Linked DNA regions of Homo sapiens. The protein of the gene in region 1 interacts with the protein of each later gene in a pairwise test. Each region holds a gene or a part of one and is shown in the gene's direction. Other genes may lie near its edges.

Region 1 (3,650 bases):
ATGAAAAGGAGATTAAATCAGCTGTTTCTCTGTAATTGACAGAACGGTCAGATGAAAACCCCGGTAAAGTGGCAAGCGATCTGCACACTATCAACCACCTTGACTTAACTGACATTTAAAGAGCAGGAGTGGAACATCCACTGAACACTGATTCCTTTCTATGCTCATGATACTTTCACCAAGATAGACTGGGTTCTGGGATATAAAACACGCGATATGACCTCTAAACTTAATGAAACGAGACTGGAAGTCAGTAATAGTATCCATAGGGAATTCTAAAATTTGGTTATTGAACAATACACTTCTAAAAAATCTGTGGTTCAGAGAAGAAATCAAAAGGGAAGGTAAAATGTTTCAAAATAAATAATAATAATATAACAGCAAAACTGGTGGGAAATGGCTAACAGTGCTCGGAGTGAAATAATACAGCTTTCAATGTGTCTATTAAAAAAATTGGGGAGATGGGGAGTTACTCCTGAAGGGTATGCAGTTCCTTTCTGGAGTGATAAAAACATTCTAAGATTGATTATAGTGATGATTGCATAGCTATGAGTATATTAAAAAACTACTGAAATGTAGACTAAATGGGTGAATTATATGAATAATCATAATTACTAATTATGTGATTTGTGTCTCGTTAAAGCTGTCAAAAAAAGAAAAATATGTGAAATTTATGGCCTGAAGATCTACATTAATCAATCATAAAATATAAGCATAAATTTAAACCAAAGTAACAAGGAGGAACATAAATCAAGGAAATAGAATAGAAACCACAAAAAGAACTGACAAAACGGACTGTGTGTGGTGGCTTACGCCTGTAATCCTAGTACTTTGGGAGGCTCAGGCAGGCAGAACGCTTGAGCTCAGGAGTTAGACCAGCCTGGGCAACGTGATGAAACCCCAGCTGTATAAAATACACCAATATTAGCCCAGGCATTGGGGCACTCTCCTGTCTGTGGTCCCGGCCACTTAGGGACTGAGGTTGGAGGACCACTTGAGCCCGGGAGGCAGAGATTGTAGTGAGCAGAGATTACACCACTGCACTCCAACCTGGATGACAGAGGGAGATCCCGTCTCCAAAAAAGAAAAAAAAAAAAAAAGAGTTGAGAAAATGAATAGTTGCTCTTGAAAAGGAGTAAGGGTGTGAGAGCAGAGAAAGGTGACAGAGACATCGCCTGAACCTAGAGGGACCCCAGCTCTAGAAGGGAGGATTTGGGAAATGTGCATTAGCTTCACTGTCACCAACTACTAGGCAGGCTTTCATGTGGAAGAAAGCTACATTTTGTCTTGCTGAGAGCCAGGTAGTTGAACAGAGCCCAAGGTAAGTAGCTTTTATTGTAACCATTTTGTTTTTTCTCAGGAGCAAGATTATATTAAATTTAATTAAATGTAAATTTACAATTAAATTAATTTTGTACTTTTACACACTCCCAACTTAAAAGTTACAAAAACTATGCAAAAAAAATTTGAAAAATAGCTGTTGGCATGATGAAAGCTATTATTGAATTTTTCAGTGTGTACTTTCTACAAACAAGGAAATTAACATCAACACATTACCACTATCTAATATGCAGACTCTATTCCGATTCTCCAGTTGTCTTCTCGTCGTCATTTATAACACAGAGATCATGGCCATAATCCCTGAATTGCTGTTTTATCTTTTTCTGTCACTCTTTGATATTTAGTGGGAACAGCTTGTCAAGGTCCTTTGTGAAGCAGAAATTACTTAATGTTTGATGCTATATCCTGACTTTCTTTAAGGTTATATTGTAACCCTCATTTGTAAAAATGTGTATTTTTATGTGTGTGTCTGTGTGTGTGCGAGAGAGAGAGAGAGAGAGAGAATATTCACCCACTGGTCAATTAAACACTTGGTCAAACTAAATACATTAGATGCTATTTCTGCTTGAAGGGCTCATATGTGTGGTTTTTTTGTTTTTTGTTTTTTGTTTTTTTTTTTGAGACAGAGTCTCGCTCTTTCGCCCAGGCTGGAGTGCAGTGCAAGCTCCGCCTCCTGGGTTCACGCCGTTCTCCTGCCTCAGCCTCCCAAGTAGCTGGGGTTACAGGTGCCCGCCACCATGCCCAGCTAATTTTTTGTATTTTTAGTAGAGACGGGGTTTCACTGTGTTAACCAGGATGGTCTCAATCTCCTGACCTCATGATCCACCCACTTTGGCCTCCCAAAGTGCTGTGATTACAGGCCTGAGCCACCGCGCCTGGCCTTTTGTGTTCTTATAAAATCTTTTCTTGCCAACTACAGTGGTGTGTTCCTGTTACCCAACTTGCTTGGGAGACTGAGGCGGGAGGATCACTTGAGGCCAGAAGTTCCAGGCTGTAGTAGACTATGATCACACCTGTGAATAGACACTGCATTCTAGCCTGGGCAACATAGCAAGACTCTATCAAAAAAAAAAAAAAACTCTTCTGCTCATATTTTCTGGGGTAAATATATTTTATGTTATAATATGATAAAAGGATACGGAGGTGTTTTTCTTTATAGAAAATAGCTACCTAACAGGCCAGGGGACAAACACGGATGCAAAAGAATGAAAGTTTGGAATGGGAAAAAAGTCCAGGCTCTCATGGGTTTTGTCACTTGGGGTGAAGGGAATGTGAGACGGAGCCTGGGAGAGGTAAGGTCTGGAAGCCACTCAAGCCCATCTCTGCCTTGTCCCCACAGGTCCGGGTTGACTCTGCCACCATCCCCCGGCAGGACGAAGTTCCCCAGCAGACAGTGGCCCCACAGCAACAGAGGCGCAGCCTCAAGGAGGAGGAGTGTCCAGCAGGTGCACTCTTATTTTTAAAAATCAGTTTATTTTTAGTTGACAGATAAACATTGTATATATTCATGGTGTACACCATGATGTTTGGAAATATGCACGCATTGTGAAATGGCTAAATCAAGCTAATTCACATACTTATCGTGTATTTGTTGTAAGAACACTTAAAAGTCTACTCAGCAATTTTCAGCTGTATGGATACAGAGCCCTGGGATAAGCCCTCTTTGCCCTCCTCACCTGTGGGTTCTGTAGCCATCCTCATCTGTGGGTGTTGCATCCGTGGTTGCAACCAACACAGATCAAAAATATGTGGAAAAAATAATGAAAATGATAACATGTCAATAAAAGTAGATAAAAAGCAATGCAGTAAAGCACTTATTTACATAGCATGTCTATTGCATTAGGTATTACAAGTAACCTAGAAATGATTTAAAGCATATGTACCTGGGGTGTATGCAATACTATCCCAATTTGTATCAGGGACTTGTGTAAGTGCAGAGTTTGTTCCATGGAATATATTCCCTGTGAATAGAAGGCAGGACTGTACAACACATTGTTTTAATAACTGTAGTCACCATGTCACACAATACATCTCTTGAATTTATTTCCCCCTGTCTAACTGAAATTTTGTATCCTTTGACCAGCATCTCTCCAACCCACCGTGCAAATACAGCGCTGGTAATCACCATTCTACTCTCTACCTCTATGAGATCAAGTTTTAAGATTCCACATATGTGAGATCATGAGGTGTTTGTCTCTCTGTGCCTGGCTTATTTCACTTAGCATGATATCTCCAGGTTCATCCATGCTGTCACAAATGACAGAATTTCCTTCTTTGTTGAGGCTGAATAGTATTCCATTGTGTCTATG
Region 2 (3,650 bases), on another chromosome or scaffold:
GTCCTGAAACTTTCCTCAATTCCAAAGTTCTTTATTACCATCATAATGTAGTTTGCGTGATAAAAATGAAGTTAAATATAACACTTGATTAAGATTTGTCTTTTTTAAGTTGTAGAACAGTTTTTTTTAACTCCCTTACACACACACAAAAGAAAAAACAGTAAAAAAGAATTGTCTTTTAAGGCTGTTCATATTAATACTGTCACCTAAAGTAAAAGATGGCTTTCTTTGGGGATCATTTTCAAAAGGAAATTGCTTGTTTGTTGTTTTTAAATCATTTCTGGAGCGAAAGAGAAAATACTGTCCTAAACTCTTACCTGGGTTCATTTACTAGCTAAGTGACTTTGGCCAGTTTTAAGTTTGTACTTTAACCAGATGGCAAATTATTATTTGGTAAGAAGTTTGTTTCTCTCTCAAATAGTTGAAACTGTAGCAGTAAGTCTTCGCATGTGAAAAGCCTACTATAGAATAGCATTCTCTCTTTTGTTTTGCTTTTATTTTTAGTTTTATTTCTTTTTAAAACAAGGTCTCACTCTTTTGATTAGGCTGGAGTGCAGTGGCATGACCTGGGCTCACTGCAGCCTTACTTCCTGGGCTCAAGTGATCCTCCTGCCTTAGTGTAGCTGGGACCACACTCACTTACCACCAAGGCTGGCTAATTTTTTATTTATTTTTTTATCGTAGAGATGAGGTCTTACTTTGTTGCCCAGGCTGATGTCAAACTCCAAGGCTCAAGCGATCCTCCCCCTTGGCCTCCCAAAGTGCTGGGATTACAGGCACGAGCCACTGTGTCCCACCAGCATTCTCTTTTAAAACATCAGTTGGATCTCATTTTATGACAAAGTGATAGAAGGGGGATGTGTTATATGAATAGTAAGTTTACTTACAGAAATGAATGTGTGTGTAAATCTATATATATATATTTTTTTCTTTCTCTTTTTCAGCACTCTGTTTTCTACAGTGGACACTGATGAAATACCAGCCAAAAGACCAAGATTAGGTACTGAATATAAATTTTAAAAATTTTTAGTTTTTAAATAGGAAAAATATATGCATGGAACAAAATTCAAAAGGTAAAAAGTATCTGGTAAAAAGTAAGTCTTGGCCGGGCGCAGTGGCTGTAATCCTAGCACTTTGGGAGGCCAAGGCAGGCGGATCACCTGAGGTCAGGAGTTTGAGACCAGCCTGGCCAACATGGCAAAACCCTGTCTCTACTAAAAATACAAAAATTAGCTTGCTGTGGTGGCAGGAGCTTGTAATCCCAGCTACTCGGGAGGCTGAGGCAGGAGAATCGCTTGAACCTGGGAGGTGGAGGTTGCTGTGAGCCAAGATGGTGCCATTGCACTTCAGCCTGGGGCGACAGAGCAGGACTGTGTCAGGAAAAAAAAAAACAAAAAAACTTAAGTCTCTTTCCTGGCCCGACGTGGTGGCTCAAACCTTTAATTCCAGCACTTCAGAGGCTGAGGTGGGAGGATCACTTGAGGTCAGGAGTTTGAGACCAGCCTGGCCAACATGGTGAAACCCCATCTCTACTAAACATTAAAAAATTAGCCAAGTGGTGCACGCCTATAGTCACAGCTACTCGGGAGGCTGAGGCACGAGAATCGCGTGAACCTGGGAGGCGGAGGTTGCAGTGAGCCAAGAATCTGCTACTGCACTCTGCACTCCAGCCTGGGCGACAGAGCGACACTCCATCTCAAAAAAAAAAAAAAAAAAAAAAAAGAAAGTCTCCTTTTTTTTTTTTTTTTTTTTTTTGAGACAGAGTCTTGCTCTGTCGCAGGCTGGAGTGCAGTGGCGCAATCTCGGCTCACTGCAAGCTCTGCCTCCCAGGTTCACGCCATTCTCCTGCCTCAGCCTCCCGAGTAGCTGGGATTACAGGCACCCACCACCACACCTGGCTAGTTTTTTTGTATTTTTAGTAGAGATGGGGTTTCACCGTGTTAGCCAGGATGGTCTCCATCTCCTGACCTCGTGATCTGCCCGCCTCGGCCTCCCAAAGTGCTGGGGTTACAGGCGTGAGCCACCGCACCCAACCCAAGAAAGTCTCTTTCCTATCCCTTTCTTATCTTTTCTAGAGGTAACTACTGTTACCAGGGACTTGTCTAATCCTTGCAGGTAAATAAGCCTAGGTGTAGACTGTGCATTTTAAAATTCTAAATCATTCTACAAAGAAAAGATACTTCTTATTTATTTATTTTTTGAGATGGAGTCTCGCTCTGTCACCCAGGCTGGAGTGTAGTGGTGCAATCTCGACTCACTGCAACCTCCACCTCCCGGGTTCACACCATTCTCCTGCCTCAGCCTCCTGAGTAGCTGGGACTACAGGCGCCCGCCATCATGCCCGGCTAATTTTTTGTATTTTTAGTAGAGACGGGGTTTCACCATGTTAGCCAGGATAGTCTCAGTCTCCTGACTTCGTGATCCACCTGCCTCAGCCTCCCAAAGTGCTGGGATTACAGGCGTGAGCCCCCGCGCCTGGCCCTACTTATTTTTAAGGAGGAAATGTTGTAAATGTTTCAAACTGAGGTGACTCTAGTTCAGATGGCTGAGGGAACCCATCTTTTCTATTTTTTTTTTTCGAGACAGGGTCTCATTCTGTCACCCAGGCTGGGATGCAGTGGCATAATCATGGCTCACTGCAGCCTCCACCTCCCTGGGCCCAGGTGATCCTTCCATCTCAGCCTCCCAAGTAGTTGGTTGGGCCTACAGGCACGTTATCACACCTAGCTGATTTTTGTATTTTTTTTGTAGAAACAGGGTCTTGCCACATTGTCCAGGCTGAAAATAGGCAGCAGTGGCATTTTGAAAGAATACTCCTGTCTTTAAGAACCGGTAATATTTCTTTTTTTTTTTTTTTTTTTTTTTGAGACAGGATCTTGCTCTGTCTTGATCTTGTCATCAACAATTTTTTTTTTTAATTTTGTAAGAGGCAAGGGTATCACTGTGTTGCCCAGGCTTCAGTGCAGTGGCACGATCGTAGCTCACTGCAGTCTCAAACTCCTGGGCTCACACAATCCTCCTGCCTCAGTCTCCTGAGTAGCTGGGACTATAGGCCCATACCACCACACCTGGCAAATTATTTTGTATGTGGATACTGAGTCTCCATATGTTGCCCAGGCTGATCTTGGAACTCCTGCCCTTCCAAAGTGCCGGGATTATGGATATGAGCCACTGTGCCCAGCCAAGTCTTTTACTTCAGTATATCTGAATGGATAAAGAAAATAAAAGTAGATTAAAGGAAAAAGGCATAGTAAAATGCTATAATAATATATTCCTCTTTCTCAAAAATGATTATAAATTTGGGTCTACCTCCAGATGTGGTAATTGAGTGTGGACATATTTGTGTTAATATTTCGTTTAAATTCAGTGAGTACTTATTGAGCATGTCTCAGTGCTAACCAATGTGTTAGGTTTTACAGAAAATACAAAAATTAGTAAGACAGGGTCTCCTTTTTTTTTTTTTTTGAGATGGAGTCTTGCTCTGTTGCTCAGGCTGGAGTGCAATGGCACATTCTCGGCCCACTGCAACCTCCGCCTCCCAGGTTCAAGTGATTCCCCTGCCTCAGCTTCCCAAGTAGCTGGGACTACAGGTGCCCACCACCACACCCGGCTAATTTTTGTATTTTTAGTAGAGACAGGGTTTCGCCATG
Region 3 (3,650 bases), on another chromosome or scaffold:
TCAAAAAAAAAAGAATGCTGAAACCAAAAAATAATAGCTTTCAGATAATCCCCACAGCATCTATGAGATGGATTCCTACTTTATCAATGAGAAAATACACTGAGAAACTGCCTCAATGTCAAATACTAAGAATCAGAGCCAGGGTTTGAACCCAGATCTAACTTCAAAGCCAGTATCCTTAGCTTATCTTCTCTTCCCGCCACCCGCACGCCTAGGCGCAGAATCGAAAACCTCAGCCCCCAGAATGTATCATTTGGCAGCTGAGAAGAAGAATGGAAAGGCTTGAAACTCTGAGATTCAAACTGGGATATCGTAGACCCTGGAGCAGGACACTGCATGTAGCTGAGGGCTCTCTAGAGTCCCTAGCACGGAGCTTGGAAGGGATGCACTTGGCCTGTGTGGTTTAATGAGCGACCTTTGCCCTCTCTCTCCTGCAGGTCTCCCATGTCCGTATGCAGGGGATCCTCTTACTGGTCTTTGCCAAGTATCAGCATTTGCCCTATATCCAGATTCTGTCTACTAAATCCACCCCCACTGGCCTGTTTGGGTACTGGGTAAGGACTGAGCTATTGTCTGAGTCGTGAGCTGGGAAGGGCTGGGAACTGTGGAGCTGGGCAAAAGAAAAAGGAAGTGAAAGGAATCTTGGTCCTCTGTCCAGCCCAATGCATGTTTGTTCTTTTGCCTCAGAGTGGGCTTGCTATCCCTGAGGCCAGGCGAGGCGAGCTGGGCTCTGTGCATGGAGAGATCACCCTGGGAAGCTTAGTTACTGTCCCTAGGAGACCCTGCAGGAAGTGAGACTGTCTGCCCTCAGGTCCAGGATGTGGAAAGAGGGGTGTGTCCAACCCGAGTAGCTTCCCACTCTTCTGTTGACCTGTTCTACCAGGGGAACAAAGGTGGAGTCAACATCTGCCTGAAGCTTTATGGCTACTATGTCAGCATCATCAACTGCCACCTGCCTCCCCACATTTCCAACAATTACCAGCGGCTGGAGCACTTTGACCGGATCCTGGAGATGCAGAATTGTGAGGGGCGAGACATCCCAAACATCCTGGACCACGAGTGAGCCTGGGTCTGGCAGACCGTTCCCCGCCCTCTGCCCCACGCTAACCCCCACTAACCCCCACGAGTGAGCCTGGGTCTGCAGACCGCTCCCCGCCCTCTGCCCCACGCTGACCCCCACGAGTGAGCCTGGGTCTGCAGACTGTTCCCCGCCCTCTGCCCCACGCTGACCGCCACGAGTGAGCCTGGGTCTGCAGACTGTTCCCCGCCCTCTGCCCCACGCTGACCCCCACGAGTGAGCCTGGGTCTGCAGACCGTTCCCCGCCCTCTGCCCCACGCTGACCGCCACGAGTGAGCCTGGGTCTGCAGACCGTTCCCCGCCCTCTGCCCCACGCTGACCCCCACGAGTGAGCCTGGGTCTGCAGACTGTTCCCCGCCCTCTGCCCCAGCTGACCGCCACGAGTGAGCCTGGGTCTGCAGACTGTTCCCCGCCCTCTGCCCCACGCTAACCCAAGCCAGCATCCTCTGCTCCATCACGGATCCCCCAGCCAGTGTCGTCAGTGTTCTGGCTCCCACCCTCTCCCTGACCCTTCCCTGGTGCCCATCTGCTGTCTCCCCTTGCTTTGCCTGCCTGGGGTCCCCTTCCTCCAGCCCGTCTGTCTTGCTTAGAAACCCTGAACACTTGGGAACAGGTCAAGGACCTTGTGGCTCCTGAGGTCACCAGGAGGGCTTCTCAGCCTTTCCTCGTGACCAGTTAAGGAGAGGAAGGAAGGGCCACAGCCTGCTCTGTGTTTGCCAGAGCAGGCTCTTTGGTAGGTCTCTCCGGTTTGAATGGTGGTTTAGGAGCCATGAGAACAGTTCCAGAGGACCCACGCGTGCCCTGGCGTCTCACTTGCCCCTCAGGTTTTCTGTGCCCCAGCAGCCCTTGGGTTGAGCAGGCTGAGCCACCTGGTGATCTCCCTTCCCCGACTTCATCACAAATCCTCAGGCTGCCCTCCTTTTTTTCTGAAGCCTCATTATCTGGTTTGGAGACATGAACTTTCGGATCGAGGACTTTGGGTTGCACTTTGTTCGGGAATCCATTAAAAATCGGTGCTACGGTGGCCTGTGGGAGAAGGACCAGGTATCCAGTGAGGGGAGGGTCCCAGGGGGTGATCTGAGCCCACGGTGGGGGCCATGTGAGCTGTGCAGAGTGTTGCTAGATGCCCTCGCTGCTGTTTTCTTTTGCCCAGGTCTGGTGGGGGAGGCTGTCTAGCAGGGCTTCGCATCCAGGGGTGAGGCAGCCACGCCTGATCTTCACATGGAAAAGCCAGGGTAACAGACCCTGGATGTGCTTTAGAATAGAGAGTCAGATACAAAGCATGAAATGAATTATTTAAAAAAGAAGAATAGGGGCCGGGCACGGTGGCTTATGCCTGTAATTCCAGCACTCTGGGAGGCCGAGGTGGGTGGATCACCTGAGGTCGGGGGTTTGAGACCAGCCTGACCAACTTGGAGAAACCTCATCTCTACTAAAAATACAAAAAAAAATTCGCCGGGCGTGGTGGCACGTGCCTGTAATCCCAGCTACTCGGGAGGCTGAGGTAGGGGAATCGCTTGAACCCGGGAGGCAGAGGTTGCAGTGAGCAGAGATAGCGCCATTGCACTCCAGCCTGGGCAACAAAAGCAAAACTCCATCTCAAAAAAAAAAAAAGAAGAAGAATAGGGAACCAGAAGGGCTTTGCACCAGGTACCATCATGCGTCAGCCCATCGTGTCCCTGTCGTCTTTCCCATCCCCAGCCTCGTTTCCCTCTTGGAGGGTGAGGTGCCCCTTTGGAGAACCCTGGCTTCCCCAGGTTCCCCTCTGACACATGTCTGCTAGTGATCTCCCCTAGAGATGGAATTCCAAGTTGGGTCCCTGCAGTCTAAGGACTGGGAAACGGCAGACAGCTGCCTCCCCTGGGCCTTGGTAATGTTTCCGAAAGGATTCGCCTGCTTTCTGGTGGGAGTGGGCTGCTGAGTAGTCACTGGGGCAGTGAGGAATTGGAGTGGCATTGCTTGACTCTTGCCCCATTTGTGACGGCATGTGCTGATCCCTTGAATGGAGTGTGGTACTGGGCCACTGGGTCGAGACTACTGGGAGACGGGGACTATGACTTTGTCTGCAGCTCAGCATTGCCAAGAAACATGACCCGCTGCTCCGGGAGTTCCAGGAGGGCCGCCTACTCTTCCCGCCCACCTACAAGTTTGATAGGAACTCCAACGACTATGACACCAGGTGAGGAGGGAGTGGGGGGCCAGAAGGTCTAGGAAGTCAGGTTACACTGACCCTGCTGGCATGGGAACTGTCTCAGAATAGAAGTGTTAGGGGGGGCAGGAATTGGTCTAGTCATCCCCTCTCCAGAGTGGCACCTCCTGTCCACTTCATGAGGCGCTGACTCGGGGAGCCGTCCCAGATCTCGAGAGAGTGGGAGGAAAGCCAGTGCCAGCAAGGGCAGGAGAGGTGTGTAGGGGGTGGGGGTGTTACAGATAGAACCAGAGGAGAGGGTGGAGCAGCTGCCTCCTGACCTAGGAGGGACTGCACTTCAGCTTCGGGAAACCCCAGACCTTCTGGTCCCCAAACGGGGCAGAAAGCTTGGCCCAGCCAGTTACTGGTATTAAGGACGCCTGC

What was found.
Region 2: the proteins of TNFRSF10D (region 1) and SENP2 interact in binary tests that used the Homo sapiens proteins (3 or more experiments, as listed by UniProt).
Region 3: the proteins of TNFRSF10D (region 1) and INPP5K interact in binary tests that used the Homo sapiens proteins (3 or more experiments, as listed by UniProt).

The regions. Positions count from the first base shown.
Region 1 is NC_000008.11:23,154,010-23,157,659, reverse strand, and holds part of TNFRSF10D (tumor necrosis factor receptor superfamily member 10D precursor), read left to right. Parts: intron 1-2,680; coding exon 2,681-2,786; intron 2,787-3,650. UniProt on the Homo sapiens protein: Receptor for the cytotoxic ligand TRAIL. Contains a truncated death domain and hence is not capable of inducing apoptosis but protects against TRAIL-mediated apoptosis. Reports are contradictory with regards to its ability to induce the NF-kappa-B pathway.
Region 2 is NC_000003.12:185,589,170-185,592,819, forward strand, and holds part of SENP2 (sentrin-specific protease 2), read left to right. Parts: intron 1-944; coding exon 945-1,000; intron 1,001-3,650. UniProt on the Homo sapiens protein: Protease that catalyzes two essential functions in the SUMO pathway.
Region 3 is NC_000017.11:1,506,587-1,510,236, reverse strand, and holds part of INPP5K (inositol polyphosphate 5-phosphatase K), read left to right. Parts: intron 1-437; coding exon 438-554; intron 555-883; coding exon 884-1,059; intron 1,060-2,010; coding exon 2,011-2,122; intron 2,123-3,147; coding exon 3,148-3,257; intron 3,258-3,650. UniProt on the Homo sapiens protein: Inositol 5-phosphatase which acts on inositol 1,4,5-trisphosphate, inositol 1,3,4,5-tetrakisphosphate, phosphatidylinositol 4,5-bisphosphate and phosphatidylinositol 3,4,5-trisphosphate.